Regions from separate parts of the Homo sapiens genome. Here all the other regions are linked to region 1. Evidence: fine-mapped expression QTL. A gene starts in region 1. Each other region holds a variant in brackets. All regions are shown on one strand. Distances are between the middles of the regions.

Evidence for each region. PIP is the estimated chance that this variant, and not a neighbour inherited with it, causes the effect.
Region 2: its variant is the best candidate, but not a certain one, in a credible set for the expression of RBM15-AS1 in whole blood (INTERVAL, PIP 0.62).
Region 3: its variant is the best candidate, but not a certain one, in a credible set for the expression of RBM15-AS1 in whole blood (INTERVAL, PIP 0.76).
Region 4: its variant is the best candidate, but not a certain one, in a credible set for the expression of RBM15-AS1 in lung (TOPMed, PIP 0.87).

Annotation. Positions count from the first base shown.
Region 1 is chr1:110,338,070-110,340,569 of GRCh38, reverse strand. It overlaps RBM15-AS1 (RBM15 antisense RNA 1), which reads left to right and starts at 1,399. Exons shown (of 4, transcript NR_036595.1): 1 at 1,399-1,573. RBM15 (RNA binding motif protein 15) reads right to left here and starts at 1,193. Exons shown (of 3, transcript NM_022768.5): 1 at 1-1,193. The coding sequence starts at 1,164. It overlaps LOC124904276, which reads right to left. Exons shown (of 1, transcript XM_047437983.1): 1 at 1,567-2,500. The coding sequence starts at 2,135. The coding sequence ends at 1,629. RefSeq lists enhancers at 205-654, 26-764, 735-854, 885-1,184, 2,325-2,500 and a silencer at 1,955-2,224.
Region 2 is chr1:110,274,452-110,277,196 of GRCh38, reverse strand. It overlaps a transcript of KCNC4 not described here. Among named protein-coding and RNA genes, the nearest start is that of RBM15-AS1, 63 kb to the left of the region's middle. The variant G/TTG (reference allele first, on the strand shown) is at 1,243.
Region 3 is chr1:110,270,434-110,273,178 of GRCh38, reverse strand. It overlaps a transcript of KCNC4 not described here and the pseudogene LOC124900436. Among named protein-coding and RNA genes, the nearest start is that of KCNC4, 61 kb to the right of the region's middle. The variant A/G (reference allele first, on the strand shown) is at 1,626.
Region 4 is chr1:110,305,980-110,308,711 of GRCh38, reverse strand. The region is part of intron 2 of RBM15-AS1 (RBM15 antisense RNA 1); the gene reads left to right. Among named protein-coding and RNA genes, the nearest start is that of RBM15-AS1, 32 kb to the left of the region's middle. The variant C/T (reference allele first, on the strand shown) is at 1,319.

The sequences.
Region 1 (2,500 bases):
ACTCTCCGTTACAGTGATGTCTAGGTTGCCCAAGAAGAGCGTCCGGTTAGCTCGCTGATCATCCTCGGGTGAAATCTCATCCACTTCTCTGAAAGGAGCAGCACCTGCTCCAGCTCCCACCCTTGGCTCAAGACTGTATGCAGGGCGCACTCTCTCATAGAACGGGTAGTCTCTTTCTCTCTCCAGGTCTCGAGGCAATGGTGGCGGAGGTGGAGGGGGCAGGCGGCCAAGAGCCAACTGCTGCAGCCGGTAGTCTCTGTATCCCAAAGCAGCGCCACCAGGGGAAAGTGATCTCTGGCCTCCACCACCTCCAGGGGGGTGCCGGTGACCACCTACAGAGGCCCCGACCACACTGGCTGATGGAGGATAAGTATCTTTGTCTAAAGGGGAGCGGCTGCGGCGCCGGCTCACATACACAGCTTCTATCTTCAGAGGCCGGTCATAGAGCACCAGGCGGCCTCTGGCATGCTTGGCCGCCCGCGCGTCCTCTGGCCGCCGGAAGTTCACAAAGGCTACCCGCTCATCCCCGCTGCCAGAACCCGACAGATGACTGATTTTCACACTTACATCACCGAAGCGTTTGAACTCATGAAACAGGCCGTCCTCCACCGCTTCGTCACTAAGCTGGGACCCCAACTCGCTTATCTTCAGAGTCTTGTATTCCGCGCCGTCCCCGCCGCCGGGAGCTGAGGAGGCGGCCCCAGAGGAACGTGACTCCCCGCCTCCACCCCGGGAGCTGCTGCGCGATTCGCCCCCGCCCGAAGAATTTTTGGTGCTCGGGGAGCTATAACTATGCAAGCGGCTACTGGAGCTGCCCCCACCGGTATCATACTCGCGGCTGCCACCTCGACTGCTGGACTTGTCCAGGTGGAGACTCCGCCGCGACCCACCGCCGCTATCGGTCTTTCCGCTGCTGCTCCCATTGCTGCCACCAGAGCCCCCTAACTTCTTGCTCCGCTCACCGCGGGAAGTCGAGTCCTCACCACCACGGGAGCGTTTGGCCTTCACTGGCGAGCGCTCTTTTCCCTTCATTGTTGCGGGTCGTCGGAGGTCGTCTCCGCGGAGCTGAGTAACCCGCCGCCCCGCGCTCGTTTCACACAGCGGAACCGCACGCCGCCATCTTGGACTCCGCCGCGGCACAGGGTCCCGCCCCGCAGTCCTCATTGGCCAATTGCTCTCTCTTCTACAGTCTCATTGGGAAAATTATTTGTCTATCTTTACATCTCCCCGCGCTCCAGGAAGGCGCCCGCCCAACCACTGTTATTGGGTTCCCAACCCCCTAGTCGGAGTACCTCATTGGTTACATTTGTTGTCTATCTTAACGGTTCCTCGCGCCAGACTGTAGCTCCGCCCCTCGCACTCTGCGGTCACGTGACCCAAAGTGTTGAGGTGTTGATTGGACAAAAAGTCTGCCCTGTAACGGTACTTCTTGCTCAGTGACAGCAGCAACCCACCTCCTTATCCCTTTCATTGGCTTATAAACCCGTCCTTTAAACCACTATTTGGGAGGTCGGGCCATCAGTTTCGGCGTTTTTTCCAGAGAGGCAGGCTCACAGCGATATCGCGAGAGACGGTAAGCTCCCTCTTTCGACCCCCTTTTTCCAACTCCTCCGGCGGCTAAAAGAAGTTTAAATCTGATTGGATGTCGGCAAGGAAGTTGATAGGCTGAAATAACTGTCCATCACTCGCTTAAAGGGGTAGGCCTGTATAACGGAGGAGGCTGACTGAAGGTGAAAGACTAGAACACGTGCTTGCTGTGCGACGTCACTTAGATGTCGCGAGAGGGTGACTGTGCGCCAGCCCCGCCTCCCCGCGTTTTCGGCGTTCTCCCCACAAACATTTGTTAAGTTCCGTGGGGTGTTTGGCTGTGCTTCGGCCCTTGGAGTTCGAAACTTCTGAGCTCCCCGCCGTCGTACCTGTGCCGGCCAAGGGGCGGGGCAGGCTTTCCGGCTGTCGGGGCCCTCCAGTCCCTCAGGAAGCCGTCCTGGGACGCCTAGCGGACACCATTTTACGTCGCTGTGGTAGCTGAGTGAACAGCCGGGGGGAGCCCCGCCCCCCGCGCGCGGGAGAGCGCCGCCCGCGGTCACCTGGGCCCGCGGGGCAGAGAGTTCACGGTTCCTGCAGCCTCGGGTCATGCTGACGCCCCCGGGCGGTGCTAACACGTAACACGCGGGACCTCGAGAGCTAAGAAGCAGGGCGACTAAGACGCAGCCCTCGCCCAGGAGCCCGTCTCTCCCGCGAGCTACCCGTTCCCGCCCAAGTACTCCGGGTAACCGAGGGGAGTGACCGTCGCTCCCCGCCTCGTGGCCCGCGGGCGGAGCCGGAACTGTCGGGACACCGCGGACGTGTCTTTGGGCGGCATGTTTTATGTTGCGAATCTGTGTGGATTTTTAAATTCTGTATTCCCCTAAAATAGCAGTGTTTTTAATATGTAATGCTTCTACCCTGAAAATCACCAAGCGAAATTTAGGCTCCATGCAGATATGTCACTTGTTTTTCC
Region 2 (2,745 bases), 63 kb after region 1:
CTGAACATTTTTAATGATGTGTGTTCTTTCTTGACTTCACTTACATTATCACCCCTATCAAGTAAGCCTAAGTCCCTGTGATTATTGGAATGGTGAAAACAGATGGCTAAATTTAGATTTCAGCGGGATGTGGGGTGGAAGGTAATGCTGAAAGCAGAGGCTTCAGAAGACAGTTTATATGTCCTTTGCAATTTGGTAAAATCTGAGTCTCTGATAATGAAAAATGTGTGGGTGGTATTGGTATATACATATGACCCGGCTCTCAGCACTGTTGAGAACTTCTGGGGGCAACTGTCTGTTATCAACTCACTTTTGCAGTCTTCCCCTTGGAGGTCCATGTTTGTCAGTCTTTAGTTTGTTTTTGGCTTGGTGACATGATAACACTATTCCTGCATGAGATACTAAGCTCCTGGGGCTGTTCTAAGATGTGTTGAATACAAAATGTCCTGCTCTCTCTGCCTGAAGATGATGCTCTTGCATTTAGATGCCCTATAGGACTAACACATGCCAATGAGCCTCCTAAGAGATTGATGGTAAATCAGAATTGTCATGAGAAATAGAACCCAAACAGGCTGGACTGGATGGTCCTGAGGCAGAATGTGGGGCACAGGAGGTTGGTTTATGCTTTTGATGGTCAATATATTATGCCATGGGAGCTAGGTACCTATGTCTTCACTCCAGAAAAAGTCCTGCCAAGAAGTCCAGGTACCCATGAGGACTAGGCAGGGCTCCCTCTCCTTCTGAAAAAGCTGCAGACACTGAAATTCTCTTTCTCTCTCTGGTCCTGGTGTCCTGTTTGCCTGAACACCATGAAAACCCAGCTATTTCTATTAACCCATTCTTCACGTATAAAGGTCACAGAACACTAAGGTCCTTTTTTTTTTTTTTTTTTTTTTTGTATAAATTGAAAGGATATAAGTGCAGCTTTTTTTACATGGATATATTATATAGTGGTGAAGTCTGGGCTTTTAGTGTAACCTTCACCTGAATAATGTACATTGTACCCATTAAGCAATTTCTCATCCCTCACTCCACTCCCACACTCCCACCCTTCAGAGTCTTCAGTGTCTATCATTCCACACTCTGTGTCCAGCTGTACACATTATTTAGCTCTCACTTATAAGAGAACATATGGTATTTGAATTTGTTTCTGAGTTTTTTTCACTTAAGATAATGGTCTCTAGTACCATCCATTTTGTTGAAAAATACATGATTTCATTCTTCTTTTTTTTTTTTTTTTTT[G/TTG]AGGCGGAGTCTCTTTTCACCCAGGCTGGAGTGCAGTGGCGTGATCTCAGCTCACTGCAACCTCCACCTCCCGGGTCCAAGTGATTCTCCTGTGTCAGCCTCCTGAGTAGTTGGGACTAGAGGCGTGTGCCACCATGCCTGGCTAATTTTTTGTATTTTTAGTAGAGACGGGGTTTCACTGTGTTAGCCAGAATGGTCTCGATCTCCTGACCTCATGATCCACCCGCCTCGGCCTCCCAAAGTGCTGGGATTACAGGGACATCCAGCTGATTTCATTCTTTTTTAAGTGGCTGAATAGTATTCCGTGGTATATACATATCACATTTTCTTTATCCAGTCCTCCATTGATGGACACTCAGGTTGATTCCCTATTTTTGCTATTGTGATAAACATACAAATGCAAGTATCTTTTTTATATAATGATTTCTTCTCCTTTGGGTAGATAACCAGTAGTAGAAGTGCTGGATCAAATGGTAGTTCTATTTTTAGTTCTTTGAGAAATAGCCATACTGTTTTCCATAGAGGTTGTACTAATTTGCATTCCCACCAATAGTGTATAAGCATTCCTTGTTCTCTGCATCCTCACCAACATCTATTTTTTTGACTTTTTAATAATAACTATTCTGATTAGTATAAGATGATACTTCATTGTGGTTTTGATTTGCATTAAAACCTGATGATTAGTGATGTTGACCATTTTTTTCCTATGCTTCTTGGCCATTTGTATGTCTTCTTTTGAAAATGTCTATTCATTTCCTTTGCCCACTTTTTAATGGGGTTATTTGTTTTTTGCTTTTGTTGTTGTTTGAGTTCCTTGTAAATTCTGGACATCAGTATCCTACTAGATGCATAGTTTGCAAATATTTTCTTCCATTCTGCATGTTGTCTGTTCACTCTGTTGATTATTTCTTTTGCTGCGCAGAAACATTTCAGTTAAGTTCTAGTTGTCTATTTTTGTTTTTATTGCTTGTGCTTTTGAGGTCTTAGTCATGAATTCTTCGCCTAGACCAATGTCCAGAAGAGTTTGCCCTAGGTTTTCTTCTAGTATTTTTGTAGTTTCAGGCCTTACATTTAAGTATTTATCCATCTTGAATTGATTTTTGTATATGGTGAGGGACAGGGGTCCAGTTTTATTCTTCTGCATATAGCAATCCAATTTCCCCAGCACCATTTATTGAAAAGGGTATCCTTTCCCTCGTGTATATTTTTGTTGACATTTTCAAAGATCAGTTGGCTGTAGGTATGTGGCTTTATTTCTGGGTTTTTAAATTCTGTTCTATTGATCTTTGTGTCTATTTTTATGATCATGCCATGCTGTTTTGTTTGCTATAGCCCAGTAGTATAATTTGAGGTCAGATAATGTAATGGCTCCAGCTTTGCTATTTTTGCTTAGGATTGCTTTGGCTATTTGGGCTCTTTTTAGGTCTCATATGAATTTTAGGCTTGTTTTTTCTAATTCTGTGAAAAATGACAATGGCATTTTGATAAGGATTGCACTGAATC
Region 3 (2,745 bases), 68 kb after region 1:
GAAAGGCACTCTGTAGCTCTAACTAGATGCCCTCTTTCAGCTCCTGGGTCCATTTTTCTCCAGGAAACATTATATGCAGTTACAGAGGTGAAGCTTTCCTCCTTCCTCTCCTTGCTCAGCTTCTTAATGGTCTTTCATTCTGCCAAGGCCAATTGTCAGGGGAACTGCGGAGATTTACATAGACACCACAACCAACTCCAGGACTATCCCTTGGAGACTTGGGAGTGAGCATTTTTATAATACAAGGAAATCAGATTACATTTAGATAAATGAATTTTAGGATGAATTTACTGCATGCAAAGGACAGAAAAGCAAACCAAAATGAACAAGGTAGTCATTGTAAGGTTCTAAGACAGCTCATGGAAATAAAGTGCAGCCAGTATCATTTTGAAAATTGCATCTGGGAAATCTGAACTGTTAGGGCTCAAGGTATCCTCTCTCTGTCTCTCTCTCCCCAACCCCTCTTTTTCTCTTTTCCTCTCTCACCCTAACTGTAAGATACCTATTCACTTTCCCACACCTCCAATCATGGATTATTATGAATGAGATGTCATGATTATGAGTGGCTAAGTCTTCTGTCTCCTCAAGAAAACAGCACTATTGTGTGACTACAGCATCCTATGGAAAATTTCAATCTTATTATAACCTTAAGAGCTCTGGTTTCATAGCCATCCAAGCCCTCTTTGAAATGACTTATAGTCCCTCTCTTTGATTCTCTTTCTCTGGGGCCTCTATGGTGTCTCTATGGTCTCATCTGTTCATACATTTGGGCCATTTTTCTCTCTGCAGCTTGTTCAAGAAGCATCTCTGCCTCTTAATGACTTCAGCCTGTTTACAGCATTGATTGTAGGTAAAGTTCCCAACCCTCAGTAACCTTTGAGCTCTGATTGCATTCTGGCTGTGCAACACATACTTGAAATTCTCAAGAGGGTGAATCTGATTGGCTGCTGACCAGCCAATAGATTGTTCAACATTGAGACAGGATCTGATTCTGGTCCAACCAGCTGTAGCTGGATGGTCACATAGAACACATAAGGCAGTCCAGCTGGTCCCTTCAGTAGGGCTTACAATCCAAGACAGATCACAGAAGAAGATGGAGTGGGCCAGGTACCCCAGAACAAAATTACTATGTTAGATCAGTTTCGAGGTCATCAGAGGTCCACAACTTTAGGGAAAATTGTGGCGGGAAGGGGGGATCTGTCCATCATGGTGTGGACAATTTAGAGGAATATGGGGTAATTATGGGTGAGTGTGTGTTATAACCTAAGTGAGTCTTAGCCTTTCATGTGTGAACGGAGCCTCCTCCTCCTCCTCTTTCAGATGCTTTTCAGAGTCACTGTACAGTTGGCAGCAAGAGGGAAGATTCCCAAAGCATGCGATGGGGACAGTCTCCTCCCCAACCTCACACCTCAACCCCCTTCTTCCCCACCCTGCAATAGAAACAGCCCCCACATGATTGTTTGCTTCCTAGCAAAACTGGACCTAAATGTTTCCAGAGGCAGCTAGCCCACTTTTTGTTGGAATGGCCTTCTAAAGAATGAGAAAGTTGTCTGCTGGCACTGAACTCACAAGCTTAAGCCCCTGTAATCAGAGGCTACACAAGTGCAGGTATTTGGGATAGGAAT[A/G]AACCAGTCCAAACAGATCTGGGTTCACATGAGTCTTGCTTCCCATACTTAGCTTTTTGCTCTTTAAGAGAAATTTTCTAGACTAGATTTTTCTAATGAGCTGCCAGGATTCAAAACTACTCTCAAGAGTCCAGAGACTTGGGTTCCAGTTTTAGCTCTACTACTAACTAGCAATGTAACTGTGGGCTATCCCTTCCCCACCCTAAGCTTCAGATCTCTCCCCTGTATAAAGAGGGAATTTGGAGTAGATGATCTTTAGTGCTCTTTTCTTCTTGACCTTCTGTTATCCAGCTTTCACCCAACCACACCATCAGTGCTCAGCTATACTCACCTCCAGGAATATGCCCTGAACTCTCACAACCTTCCCACCTCTGAAGGTTTAACCTCTCTTTTCTCTTTGCTCAGTTTCTCCAGGGTCTGAGTGGCATCTAGCCCTTGCCAGTTCACACAAGGAGAATTGCATGCCTTTGACTCTGGAGAGTCATTCCTTGTTTGTTTGTTTTCTATTTCTACCCTCTCCAGAACTGTCATCCTCAGGATCCTTCCATTGGCTTCCAAGCCTTCCTGAAAAGATCTTTCAAGAGGGTTCCATTCAGCCCCCCAGGGTCTAAATCTACTGAAGAGCTGATCTTCCACATCAATAGACTCCTCCAATGTCCTGGAATGTGTACCTCTGAATTGAGGCCACCGCAGAGCCAGTCTGCAGGGGCTGAAAAATGCAATGCAACTGAGGGTAGGCCAGGCATCCTGTGTTCAGACCTCAGGCCCTGATAGGCTGCTCACCTCTGATGCAGTGTGGTTGGGTGAGAAGAGCCAGGCCCACTTTGGAGGCAATCCCTTCCCACCTTTGTAGCCTTGTTTCCCTTGCACATACTGCTTCTATTTATCTTCCTCACAACCAGCTCCCTTGCACCTGTTTGTTCCTTTCTTGAAGGTCATTCGCTCAGCCTCCTGGTTTGTGCTCACACCCTCCAGTCAGCAGCTTATCTCCCTAAAGAAGTTCAGTAGACACATATGGGGACAACTTGTAAGACTCGCAGTGCCTATGTGGACAGGGTCATCAGGCTGCCTCTAAGTCCACCCTGAGATTATTAGTATAGCCTCATCCAACTCCTTAGCT
Region 4 (2,732 bases), 32 kb after region 1:
ATTCCCATCTCTCATGCTAGGCCACTCCCTCTCCTAAGCGCTCAGAAACTGTGCTTATGTTTAACCCTTAGGCTTTCCATGTAGTGTTATACATACGTATGCATGTCTCCTACCCTAGGCGATGCTCTTTGAGGGCATAGACAGAATCTTATTTTCTTTCTGTTTCCTCCCCACATAACTATTACCCACAGCACTTTGTATGCAGTAGACTTTTCATAAATATCTGCTGACTTGGAGTGTGTGTGAGGCAGGGTGAACAGGGAGCATGAGAGAGCTGGATTGGAATTCCTCCTCCCACGGACTGTGGCTCTGGGCAAATTACTCAACCTCTGTGGTTCTCCCTCAGTTTCCTCACTCTAAAAGGGGGTGATAGCATTTGCTGTCAAGGGGTTATTATGAGGAAATGAAGTGAAAAAATGCAGGCAAAGCATTTACATAGTGCCTGGCACATATTCCACACTCCATCAGTGATATGTATTCTAGTAGCTGCAGGGTGGTGCCTGGACAAGGTGGATGGTCATAATGAGGAAGGAAAGAGCCCCAGGAGGCATGAGAAACAAGGGCCTACTAAAGACCACACTTCCAAGGGGATGGAACAGAGATAGATAAAAAGGAAGGAGATATTTTAAGGAAAGCTCAGTAAAATGGAGAGGAGCCAACAAAATGAATGTGAGGCTGCTGGGATAAGGGGGAAAGGAACTGATTAGAAGCAAGAGAAGCCTGGAGCCATGCCCCAGAGACTCTATCCAGGATGAAAGGAGGGGCCTGGAGAAGAGGTAGATGTGCCCAGCCAAAAAGAGAAAAGGGCCAGGAGTGGGGAGGGGGTGACTGGGAAGATGACATTACAAACTAAGGTGGCTGTGGAAGGAGCAGTATCTGCCTGGATCCAAAAAGAGGATCTGAAAGCCAAAAAGGATGAATAATCCAGGCATCGGGCTCAAGGCAGGAGGCAGCTGTTCATTTGTGGCTTGATGAGCACTTGACTAAGGTAGTTTAAGAAACTACTTCTAACGCAGTTTAGACTCGCTGGAGCATGTGCCTCACCGAAGACCCCACCCAGCAGGCATCACAGAGTAGTGGAAGCGGAAGGACCCCCAGACCCATGGACACAGTCTGAGGAGACTACCGCCCCTTTCATCCCTAGGGTGGGACAGCGGGAAATTGCCAGAGACAGTCCGAGGAAGGCCTTCTGTCCTGTGCCTCTTTGGTAAATCAAGCAGCGTCTTTCTGTGCATCAAATCTAGTCTCTGAAACTTGAATCCAAATTTGCTGACACAGGGGCTTCTATCTGCAAGAGGTATGCAGGGATGGCCAAGGT[C/T]AGGGGCTCCTTTGACCACTTAGAATCAGATCTGGTCTCAGCTGGAGTCCTTGGTCCCTCCTCTGACCATCACTTGGCCCCATTCTCCACAGCGAGAGGAAGAAGCTTGCCAAGTGGCAAGAGTCAAGTCATCGGCCTGCAGGGAAAGAAATGTTCTTTCTGGCCTCAGGATCTGAGCAAGATTGTCCAAAGCAATTTGCAGACTAACTTGAAAGGCGACATGGACAGGAAGGTGTCTGGGGAAGCAGAAGGCCCCTCATCCACAGATCCTTGAGGCAGACATGCCCTGCCTGTTAACTAGAAATAGTACCAGGCCAGGAGCCCAGAGGAGCACCCCCAACCAGATGTGATGACAGCCTGTGCACATATATGTATACATGTGAGTGCGCCTTGTCTCCTGGCTCCTTTCACTCCAGGGCAGGTACGGGTTGGTAGCATGGGCTTGTGCTCTACTCAGTTATTCAGGGACCTGGGTGGCCATGGTTTTGCCGTCTCCAACCAAGGCTGCCCTGGGATTTGGTGTCCAGTGGATGCAGAAAGAAAGAACATTGAGACCACACTGGGATGTTTTTACAGTCAGGTCTGAAAGTGGCACACATCACCTCACACTCCACTGACCAAAACTCATTCCCAAGAACACAGCTAACCTGCAAGGCAGCCTGGGAAATGAAGCCTAGCCATATGCCAGAGAAGGTGAGATGGATTTGGTGATCAATCAGCAATCTCTGTCACATGCCTAAAAGCACAGAGGACATTTTGCGATAGAGGATTGGGAAGAAGCACCTGAGAACGGAACAGATGGAAAAGACACGGGGAGCTTGGACAACATCCCAATGCTACCATGGGGTAGCATTAGTAGGCACCCATCTCCTCACCTTAGGAGCATGGTGTCCTGCAGGGAAGACATGCTAGGAGTATTTGACTTGGAGGCTCAAAGAACTGGGAAGCTCTTGGCCAAGGGGAAGGGTGTTCTCAAGGTCTAGAGGACCCTCTGAAGAGAGGCCTGGTAACCTAGGGCCAGCTCTGGGCTCAGATGAGGCAGGTTCAGGCAACCTTAGGTCCAGCCCAAGTCACCAGGGGAGAAAAAAGGCAGAGGCCCAGAACTTACACTCCACACTGCAATGCTCCCTGTGCAATTCTCCTGTGCTCCACTTTTGTGGAAGGGGGCCAGGAAGCCAAGGTCTAGGAGGAGGAGCTAACCGAGAGGTCAGCAGGCAAGGAATATCACTGCCTGCAAAGGTCTGGCCACAATGGAGCAGGGAACCCCAGGCATGTGAGGAGGAGGAGCGCAGAGAAAGAAAGGAGGAAGGGCTATACATGAGAAAAGGGAAATGGAGACAGAAAAGCCTATTTTGTACATGGTGTAAGAGGTGAGTCTTGATTTTAGTGTTGATCTTACTTTGGAGTGCCACAG